2 separate regions of the Homo sapiens genome follow, and region 1 is linked to region 2. The links come from fine-mapping of genetic effects on gene expression. Tissue or cell type: hypothalamus. Region 2 holds a variant in brackets; the other region holds the start of a gene. All regions are shown on one strand. Distances are from middle to middle.

Region 1 (5,357 bases), 28 kb after region 2:
CGCTGCGCACCCAGGAGGAAGCCGCGCGTGAGCCTTGCGGTGCCCCCGACCCCGCGGCCCCGGACCCCTGCCCCGACCCCGCGGCCCCGGTCCCCGGTCCCCGCACCGCGGATGAGCAGCGAGAAGTTGCCGTCGTCGAAGGCCGAGGCCGAGAGCTCCAGGCGGCCGCGGTCCCGCGCCTCGTACACGCGCTGCTCGCCCGCCGAGTACAAGTCCAGCAGGCGCCGCGCGGGGCCACCCCCGGGGCCGCGCAGGTCCCAGTGGAGCACGCGCTGGCGGTCGTGCAGCCGGTCCTGGGTCCACACCATGCGCGGGCTCTGGCAGCGCAGCACCGCCCGGGCGCCCGCCTCCCAGCTCACCGCGGACTCGGACACCACGGAGCTGCCAGCAGCGGCGGGTACCGAGGACCCTGGTGGGGGAGGGGAGTCGGTGGGGGAAGGGGTGGGCCCCCTAGGGCCCTGGTTGGGGGAGTCAGTGGGGGAGGGGCAGGGCCCTGGTGGGGGAGGGATGTCTGTAAGGGACGGGCAGGACCAGAGGGCCCTGGTGGTGGAGGGGAAGTCCGTGGGGTGGGGCAGACCCCCGAGGGCCTGGATAGGGGAGGGGGAGTCACTGGGGGAGGGGCGGACCCTGATGGTCCTGATGGGGGAGGGTGAATCAGTGGGGGAGGGGCGGGCTCTGAGGACCCTGGTGGAGGAGGAGGAGTAACTGGGGGAGGGGTGTGCCCCAAGGACTCTGGCGGGGTTGGGGGCATCTTTGGGGGGGTGTGGGCCCCTGAGGCCCCTCGTGGTGGGGGAGATTCCATGGGGGAGGGGCATGCCCCCTAGGGCCCATGTGGGGGAAGGGGAATCATTGGGGGAGTGGTGGACCCCCGAGGGCCCTGGCAGGGGAGGGGGAGTCCATGGGGGAGGGCAAGTCAGTCGGGGAGACATGGGGCCCAAGGACCCTAGTGGGGGATGGGGAGTCCATGGGGGAGTGGTGGGCCCCGAGGGCCCTGGTGGGGAAGGGGACTCAGTAGGGGAGGGGCAGACCCCGAAGGCCCTGGTTGGGGAAGGGGAGTCAGTGGGGGCATCTGTGGGGGAGGGGTGGGCCCCCGAGGGCCCTGGTGGGTGTGCGGGAGTCTGTGGGGGAGGGCCAGGCCCCCAAGGGCCCTGGTAGGGGAAGAGGAGTCATTGGGGGAGGGGGAGTTATTGGCAAGGGGAGGTGCCCAAGGGTCCTGATGAGCAAGGGGGAATCAGTGGGGGAGGGGCAGGGCCTGAGGACCCCCGGGGGCTGGGCCTGGCAAGATAGGAGGGGCTGAGGGGGAGTGGGGGTGGGCAGCTGGGGCTGGGGTCACTAACCTGAGTGCAGGAGAACAGCAGAGCCTGGAAGGAGAGGAGTGAGCTGGAGAGGCCACCCACAGCCCCACCCAGCCCCGAGACCCCCCACTTGGCCCCCAGAGTCCCTCCTGTAGTCCCAAAGTGGATGCTGTGACACCCACTTCAGTGCAGGGAGGACGCCTCTCACACAGACCTACATAGCCCTCCCTGCCACCGTGCTGGGCTTTGGATGGCACCTGCCCTTGAGTGGGGAAGCCAGGGCATGGGCGTGGGCCAGGGCCAGGCTCCAAGCCAGCCGGTTCTGGGGTGTGTGCTTGTCACCGGGGCCACTCCACCTGGCTGCACCCAAGTCACCCAGAGCACCAAGGAGGCTGGATCTGTGGGTTCCCCCACGCTCCCTCCAGGGCTGTGCCCCAGCCCCCGAGGGTCCTTGGACCCTCAGACGCTGGGGACCCCACACCACACCTAAGGCTCAGCGCAGCCCCTGAGGTGCTTCCGCAGGGCAGAGGCCTGAAGGCTGAATGTGGGTCGTGACCCCGGCTGCCGCCCCACAGGCCCGCGTTGCTGCTTGAGGGACTCTCATTGTCGTAGGCCGCCTCGGCATCCACTCTGAATCTAGGCTGGACTTTCTCTGACCGGAAGCGGGGCTGCCACCCGGGACAGTTTCCAATTCACATCCCCCGTCCTCGAGCTGATCCACCCAGACGCCCGCCCTACGCACTGTCCCCTGGTGACCACCCCCTGTGTCCCCACAGACCCCACGCCCCACATGGACTGTGCAGCTGCACCACGGAGTCCCCCCACAGTCAGCGTGGCCCCACGGGGCTCGTGCCGCTTGCCTTAAACCCACCAGTTAAAACTCCCCCACCAGGCATGGTGGCTCACGCCTGTAATCCCAGCACTTTGGGAGGCCAAGGCAGGTGGATCACCTGAGGTCAGGAATTCAAGACCAGCCTGGCCAATATGAAAAACCCCATCTGTACTAAAAATACAAAAAATTAGCCGGACGGGGTGGTAGTGGGCGCCTATAGTCCCAGCTACTTGGGAGGCCGAGGCAAGAAAATGACTTGAACCCGGGAGGTGGAGGTTGCAGTGAGCCGAGATCACGCCACTGCACTGCAGCCTCCTTGGCGAGAGAGAAACTGCCTCCAAAAAAATTCCCTGAGGGAAACCTGTATGCAGAACGCCCTGATCCCAATAAAGGGTTGGCCTGGGGGTCCCTGTCTCTCTCCACTTTCCCTGGCCTCCCAGCAGTCTGTGCACCCCAGGGCCCGTGGGTGATAAAAGCTGTTTCTATCCTGTGTCTCTAGATCACTGGGGGCTGCTCTCCCTCACATAGATCCTATGTGAAAACTGCCCCAGAGATGTGGCCGAGAGCCTGGGAGCTTCCCAGAGGAATGTGCCCGGTCAGCAGCCAGCCCAGGCCTGGGAGCGGGGGCTGGAACAGACCCCACAGTTCTCAGGTCCCCTTCAATCACTGACCCACTCCCTAAACAGAGCCCCAGCAAGAGGGGCTGCAGGAGGGGCCCCGAGGGAGACGCCGCCGTGCCTGGGCCCCCAGCCCTTCTTGGCCCTCTGGGCTTCAACTCCCTAGGAGGGGAGGCTGGCCAAAGTCTAACTGAAGACGTCACAGCCTCTGGCAAGCGGCTCTCCCGAGCGCCCCCAGACCCGTCCTCTTCCCTGGTGGGACCTTCCCACTCCTCCTGGCCCAAGCTCAGATGGGCGGTTTTGTCCGAAACGGACTCGCACAGCCCCACGTGCCACCCCCCACCCGCCTCCCAGGGCCCCACACTCACTCTGCAGAAGCACAAGTTTCCAAAGCAGGATTCGGGATGGCAGCGCCATGGCCCCCGCCCAGCCCCAGGCTTTGTCCCACTCGGCTCTAAGTCTCTCTCCAGAAAAACAGCCCTACCCCCTCCCCCTCCTTAGCACCCGCGGTGACATCACGGAGGCCTGGGCCTGTCTACGGTCTGGGGACCGCCCCCTCTGGCTCCTGCCGGGCCCCTTGGCCTCCCCCATCGTTGCTGGCCTGCTGGGGAGGGGCAGTGTGGGAGCAGAGGCCCAGCCCCTCACCGGTCAGGCCTGGGGAGGGGTGGTGACCGCACCCTTGGAGGGACAAGAAGGTCCGAGGACATGGGCCCCTGATACCACGTGATCGTGTCTCACGTCTAGGAGCCTCCCGGGCCTGTGGTGAAGGGTTGGGACTGTTGGGTGAGTGGCCCCTCCGCCCCACCTCTGGCCTCCCCCCACGTGAGCCACCTCAGGGCAGGGTCCTCCCCTCAGTCTGCTCCAGGCCCCAGAAAGGCCTCCCAGCGCTGAGACCGCCCCCACCCACGGTGCACGCTGGTGCTCTCCTTCAGACCAGATGGCCCTTCCAGCTCCAACCCTTGGCCCTGCATGACCTTGGTACCCGTCTCCTCTGGGGGCCACGGTGGGCTCCCTTGGGCCAGGATGATGGACGCTGCCAGTCACTAGTCCCCTTTACAACCTGGAGAGTCAGCCAGGGACAGGGGACCCTGAGCACTGGGAGGCCTGGGGGTGCTGGGGTGAGCAGACCTCTCCCTGCTGGCCCCGTCCCCTGGGGCTGCCCGCCTTTAGGGTGCAGCCTGGTGTCCCTGAAACCAGGTGCTGGATTACAAGCCTCCTGGAGAAAGGGGAGAGTGGGACCCCTGCCATGGAAGGCACAAATTTGAAACTGTGGGAAAACTTACAAAGTCACATAAACAAATGCGAAATAACAGCCTGCACTGTGTAGCAAACCCAACTCCTTCTAATCAAGCAAACCTCAAGAAAAAACAATCTGAACAACCACAACCACTAGAAACCCTCAGTGCATAGTTCCGCCCGCCCACTTGGAGTGAGCTCTCCTTACAGGCCCCGAGGGCCCCAGCTGGGTGGGGGGCTCACCCCTGAACCCTGCTCTGGTGCCCAAGTCCTCAGACAGTGGGAAGCCCAGTGCAGATCAGAGTGGTGGTCTCAGGGCGAGGGGAGGGGAACCTGCGGCTGCTCCAGTGAGAGGAACGGGCAGGACACGGACCGGCGTAAGGACAGAAGACCCCACCCCACCCCAGCCCGGTCAGACCCATTTCCTCAGCAGGGTCCTGGCCCGGGCGGCGACCTTTCCAAACTGGCTTCAGGGCTGAACACATCCCGCCACCCCCACTCCCTCCCTGGGCCTTTCATTCTGGAAAAACAAGCCCCACCTGGCTGGCCTCGAGGCCTCTGCTGGCCTCTCCTCCTGTTTTTCCAACTGGTTTGTATTAGTGCTGGCAGCTGCCCGCCCGCCCATGTCTGTCTCCGTCGCACACTCTGGGGCCTTGGCCTCTGCAGTCTCTGTCTCCTTCCGTCACTCTCCCTGTTCCCTCTCTCCCCATGGAGGGAGGACGGACAGCAGTTTGGTGGGGGGACAGGGTTGGCCCTCGGGTCTGGGAGGGCCCGGCTCTGGGTGCAGGGCTGAGAGGGGCGCCTGGTCCGCACGACAGCCTCAGGCCAGGGCTCGCCTCACTCTGCAGGGCCGTCCCTCTCCGGGCAGTGGCCTCCAGCCACACTTTCGGGGACCCAGCCAGCGGAGATGCAGGCCAGAGGCTGTCGTCTGAGAGGGCCCTGACCTCTGAGAGGGCCACCTGGGGGCAGCTGACCCCCATGGGGCCCTGGGCAAGGAACAAAAGGCTGATGAGGCCATCAGGCCCCTTCCCTGACCCTCCCTGTCCGGCCCTCAGTGGGAAACAGCCACAGAGAAGAGCAGGCCTGGTAGTGACCAGGTCACCTGCTCCTCCCAGGGCCAGTGACCTGTGCCTCTTCTGCACCTTCCTGGGCTGGGACTGTGGAGCCTCTGCTCGCTGGGGGGTGGTCTGCAGAGCTGTGGGTGTGTGACTTAATTCCCAGCCTGGCCTGGCATTTTTCTCCCTCTGGGAAGAGGACAAACCAGGACAAAGCCACTGGCATCACTGTGCTCTGGCTAAGCCCCCAGCCAAACCAGCGCCCTGGACCGTCCTCCTAGCCCCACCTCTGGGGGTTGGGGTGGAGCAAGAGGGGTCAGCT
Region 2 (5,331 bases):
CCGACTCCTACAACGCCTCGCTGGCCGCCTACCACCCCTGGGTCGTGCGCCGCGCCGTCACCGTGGCCTTCTGCACGCTGCCCACACGCGAGGTCTTCCTGGAGGCCATGAACGTGGGGCCCCCGGAGCAGGCCGTGCAGATGCTAGGCGAGGCCCTCCCCTTCATCCAGCGTGTCTACAACGTCTCCCAGAAGCTCTACGCCGAGCACTCCCTGCTGGACCTGCCCTAGGGGCGGGAAGCCAGGGCCGCACCGGCTTTCCTGCTGCAGATCTGGGCTGCGGTGGCCAGGGCCGTGAGTCCCGTGGCAGAGCCTTCTGGGCGCTGCGGGAACAGGAGATCCTCTGTCGCCCCTGTGAGCTGAGCTGGTTAGGAACCACAGACTGTGACAGAGAAGGTGGCGACCAGCCCAGAAGAGGCCCACCCTCTCGGTCCGGAACAAGACGCCTCGGCCACGGCTCCCCCTCGGCCTATTACACGCGTGCGCAGCCAGGCCTCGCCAGGGTGCGGTGCAGAGCAGAGCAGGCAGGGGTGGGGGCCGGGCCTGCAAGAGCCCGAAAGGTCGCCACCCCCTAGCCTGTGGGGTGCATCTGCGAACCAGGGTGAAGTCACAGGTCCCGGGGTGTGGAGGCTCCATCCTTTCTCCTTTCTGCCAGCCGATGTGTCCTCATCTCAGGCCCGTGCCTGGGACCCCGTGTCTGCCCAGGTGGGCAGCCTTGAGCCCAGGGGACTCAGTGCCCTCCATGCCCTGGCTGGCAGAAACCCTCAACAGCAGTCTGGGCACTGTGGGGCTCTCCCCGCCTCTCCTGCCTTGTTTGCCCCTCAGCGTGCCAGGCAGACTGGGGGCAGGACAGCCGGAAGCTGAGACCAAGGCTCCTCACAGAAGGGCCCAGGAAGTCCCCGCCCTTGGGACAGCCTCCTCCGTAGCCCCTGCACGGCACCAGTTCCCCGAGGGACGCAGCAGGCCGCCTCCCGCAGCGGCCGTGGGTCTGCACAGCCCAGCCCAGCCCAAGGCCCCCAGGAGCTGGGACTCTGCTACACCCAGTGAAATGCTGTGTCCCTTCTCCCCCGTGCCCCTTGATGCCCCCTCCCCACAGTGCTCAGGAGACCCGTGGGGCACGGAACAGGAGGGTCTGGACCCTGTGGCCCAGCCAAAGGCTACCAGACAGCCACAACCAGCCCAGCCACCATCCAGTGCCTGGGGCCTGGCCACTGGCTCTTCACAGTGGACCCCAGCACCTCGGGGTGGCAGAGGGACGGCCCCCACGGCCCAGCAGACATGCGAGCTTCCAGAGTGCAATCTATGTGATGTCTTCCAACGTTAATAAATCACACAGCCTCCCAGGAGGGAGACGCTGGGGTGCACTGGGTGCCTGATTTCCTGCAGGGGGACACAGGGGCACCCAGTGAGGGTGGGGAGGGCCCTCACCCCAGGGACACAGCTGAGGTGGGTGCACCTAACTCCAAGGGAGCTGAGGCCCCACTGCCAGGCTCAGGGGGCTGTGTTAGCCCCAGGGCTCAACAAACACCCTGAGAAAAGGCCAGCCTTGGAGGCAGGGCTGCTGTGTGCCCATTCTCCCAGAGAGGTCCCATCACTATGCCTGTTGTACAGGTGAGACAAGAGAGAGACAGAGTCACCCAGAACCAAGAGGCTGGGTTGGGAGGACGGTTGGGAGGGCAGACATCCGCCTCTCCATGCAAAAGAGGAGAGGCCTGCGTGGGATGTGTGCGTGGAGGTGGGGGCCACTCCCAGCCACAACAGTGGCCTGGACAGAAAGGGGATGCAATTCAGCAGAGTCTTCCTGGATGTCACCCCCACCTCAGGGTCTGTGGGAGCTGCATATGGTGCCGGCAAAGGCTGCCGACTGCAGTATGGGCCGGGAGAACTGCCTGGGTCTGCGTGGGCCCCAGGGCAGGGCTCCCTCCGGGTGTTGCCTTCTGTACAAGTGCCATGCTTGTGCCGTTTGCGTGTCCCAAGTGCGAGTGTGCTATTTGCGTGTGCCGCACGTGTGCCGTTTGCATGTGCTGTTTGCATGTACCATGTGCATGTGTGCCATCTGTGCAATGTGCAGGTGCCAGTTGCATGTGCCATGCGTGTTGGCCGTGAGCGTGTGCTGTTTTCGTGTATGTGCCATGCACGTATGTGCTGCGTGTTGGCCGTGCACGTGTGCCACGTGCATGTGTGCCATTTGTGTATGCCGTGTGTGCTGTGAGCGTATGCTGTGCGCATGTGCGTGCCATG[T/C]GCTTTGCGTGTACCATGTGTGTGCTGTTTGCATGTGCCATTTGTGTCATGCACGTGCCATTTGCGTGCGATGCGCGTGTGCCACACGTCGTTTGCTTGCGTGCCATGCATGTGTGGCATTTGTGTATGTGCCGTTTCCGTGTGTATTGTGTGTGCCGTGTGTGTGCCATTTGCATGTGCCGTTTTGTGTGTGCCATGCGCGTGTGCCATGCACTTGCCGTGCGTGTGCCATTTGTGTGTACCATGCGCATGTGCCATTCGTGTGCACCGTACACGTGTGCCATTTGCATGTATGCTGTGCACGTGTGGCATGCATGTGTGCCGTTTGCATGCCATGCATGTGTTCCTTGCGTGTGCCGTGCGTGTCCCATGCACGTGTGCCGTGCATGTGCCATTCGCGTGTACCATGCGCATGTGCCGTTTGTGTGTGTGCCGCATTCCTGTGCTCGTGTGCCAGGTTCGCATGTGCGCCATATTCACGTGTGCTCAGCATGTGCCATATGCATGTGCGGTGGTAGTGTGTGTCCCTCACAGGTCCTCCTCACAACACCATGGGGAAGAAGCACCAGCCAGGGCACACCTCCTGGTATCTGCTAGGTCTGCCAGGCCCTAGCTGAAGCTGAGTGCCCCCCAGTTCCCCTGGGAGGGCCTGCGCCTGGAGTCTGCTGTGTCCCCGAGGGCACCCCCAAAGCAACACAGAGGCAGAGGAGTCCCGGCCCTGCACACCTGGTGCTGCTCCAGCTGCCGCTCATTTGCCTGTGGCCCTTCCTCCCTTGTTTGCGTGCCCCCCTGGCAAACAAACTCTACCCCCAGCAGGAGCCACCTGTGTGCCTGCCACGCAGGAGTGGCCCAGACGGGGGTCAGCAGTGTGAGTACAGCTGGCCATGCGGTTCCTACAGCTTCCAGGCGTCAGACTCTGGCAGAAGGGCTGAGACCCTCAAGGAACTCTGCTCCCAAGCAGACTGGGAGGGCAGCACCACCACCCCAGGGCCCTCCCCAGCTGCAGGGTGGAGGCCTGGCTGGCCGGCTGCCCACTGGCCTGACTGGTCTGCAGGCCTAGGGGGCCCATCCCTGCTGCCCCCGGCTCCGGCCAGCACAGCCTTGAGTGGGAGCCAGAAGCTCCCGGGGCTGGGTAGGAGGCATTTCTGTGCTTATGAAAAGCCCCAGGGCTGGGTGTCTCTGCATCCCTCCCACGCAGCTGAGACCTCAGAGCCCTGGAGGCCCCTTTGCCCCCTCTCCTCTCCACAGCCTGCTGGGCAACTCCAGGAATCGGGGGGTGGCAAGGGGCTCAGCCACAGGCAGGGAACAAGGCCACGGCCAGCAACTGAGCAGAGCCTGCCTGCCGGTCAACGCTGGCCATAGAGCCTGGCAGTGGCCTCAGGCAGAGTCTGACGCGCACAAACTTTCAGGCCCAGGAAGCGAGGACACCACTGGGGCCCCAGGGTGTGGCAAGTGAGGATGGCAAGGGTTTTGCTAAACAAATCCTCTGCCCGCTCCCCGCCCCGGGCTCACTCCATGTGAGGCCCCAGTCGGGGCAGCCACCTGCCGTGCCTGTTGGAAGTTGCCTCTGCCATGCTGGGCCCTGCTGTCCTGGGCCTCAGCCTCTGGGCTCTCCTGCACCCTGGGACGGGGGCCCCATTGTGCCTGTCACAGCAACTTAGGATGAAGGGGGACTACGTGCTGGGGGGGCTGTTCCCCCTGGGCGAGGCCGAGGAGGCTGGCCTCCGCAGCCGGACACGGCCCAGCAGCCCTGTGTGCACCAGGTACAGAGGTGGGACGGCCTGGGTCGGGGTCAGGGTGACCAGGTCTGGGGTGCTCCTGAGCTGGGGCCGAGGTGGCCATCTGCGGTTCTGTGTGGCCCCAGGTTCTCCTCAAACGGCCTGCTCTGGGCACTGGCCATGAAAATGGCCGTGGAGGAGATCAACAACAAGTCGGATCTGCTGCCCGGGCTGCGCCTGGGCTACGACCTCTTTGATACGTGCTCGGAGCCTGTGGTGGCCATGAAGCCCAGCCTCATGTTCCTGGCCAAGGCAGGCAGCCGCGACATCGCCGCCTACTGCAACTACACGCAGTACCAGCCCCGTGTGCTGGCTGTCATCGGGCCCCACTCGTCAGAGCTCGCCATGGTCACCGGCAAGTTCTTCAGCTTCTTCCTCATGCCCCAGGTGGGCGCCCCCCACCATCACCCACCCCCACCCAGCCCTGCCCGTGGGAGCCCCTGTGTCAGGAGATGCCTCTTGGCCCTTGCAGGTCAGCTACGGTGCTAGCATGGAGCTGCTGAGCGCCCGGGAGACCTTCCCCTCCTTCTTCCGCACCGTGCCCAGCGACCGTGTGCAGCTGACGGCCGCCGCGGAGCTGCTGCAGGAGTTCGGCTGGAACTGGGTGGCCGCCCTGGGCAGCGACGACGAGTACGGCCGGCAGGGCCTGAGCATCTTCTCGGCCCTGGCCGCGGCACGCGGCATCTGCATCGCGCACGAGGGCCTGGTGCCGCTGCCCCGTGCCGATGACTCGCGGCTGGGGAAGGTGCAGGACGTCCTGCACCAGGTGAACCAGAGCAGCGTGCAGGTGGTGCTGCTGTTCGCCTCCGTGCACGCCGCCCACGCCCTCTTCAACTACAGCATCAGCAGCAGGCTCTCGCCCAAGGTGTGGGTGGCCAGCGAGGCCTGGCTGACCTCTGACCTGGTCATGGGGCTGCCCGGCATGGCCCAGATGGGCACGGTGCTTGGCTTCCTCCAGAGGGGTGCCCAGCTGCACGAGTTCCCCCAGTACGTGAAGACGCACCTGGCCCTGGCCACCGACCCGGCCTTCTGCTCTGCCCTGGGCGAGAGGGAGCAGGGTCTGGAGGAGGACGTGGTGGGCCAGCGCTGCCCGCAGTGTGACTGCATCACGCTGCAGAACGTGAGCGCAGGGCTAAATCACCACCAGACGTTCTCTGTCTACGCAGCTGTGTATAGCGTGGCCCAGGCCCTGCACAACACTCTTCAGTGCAACGCCTCAGGCTGCCCCGCGCAGGACCCCGTGAAGCCCTGGCAGGTGAGCCCGGGAGATGGGGGTGTGCTGTCCTCTGCATGTGCCCAGGCCACCAGGCACG

Alleles and levels. Positions count from the first base shown, and alleles are read on the strand shown. Sizes are in standard deviations (SD) of each study's normalised expression.
In carriers of allele C in region 2, the expression in hypothalamus of the gene that starts at base 3,212 in region 1 tends to be higher than with T alone (moderate effect, 0.54 SD a copy in GTEx).

Evidence for each region. PIP is the estimated chance that this variant, and not a neighbour inherited with it, causes the effect. A credible set is the group of variants that fine-mapping cannot tell apart.
Region 1: it holds the start of MXRA8, and the variant in region 2 is the best candidate, but not a certain one, in a credible set for the expression of MXRA8 in hypothalamus (GTEx, PIP 0.70).

What each region holds. Positions count from the first base shown.
Region 1 is chr1:1,355,344-1,360,700 of GRCh38, forward strand. MXRA8 (matrix remodeling associated 8) reads right to left here and starts at 3,212. Exons shown (of 10, transcript NM_032348.4): 1 at 3,113-3,212; 2 at 1,338-1,361; 3 at 107-409; 4 at 1-2. The coding sequence starts at 3,161. RefSeq lists enhancers at 1-48, 1,173-1,725, 2,313-2,895 and a silencer at 3,226-3,345.
Region 2 is chr1:1,327,534-1,332,864 of GRCh38, forward strand. CPTP (ceramide-1-phosphate transfer protein) reads left to right here. Exons shown (of 3, transcript NM_001029885.2): 3 at 1-1,363. The coding sequence ends at 230. It overlaps TAS1R3 (taste 1 receptor member 3), which reads left to right and starts at 3,747. Exons shown (of 6, transcript NM_152228.3): 1 at 3,747-4,003; 2 at 4,105-4,405; 3 at 4,491-5,273. The coding sequence starts at 3,813. The variant T/C (reference allele first, on the strand shown) is at 2,241.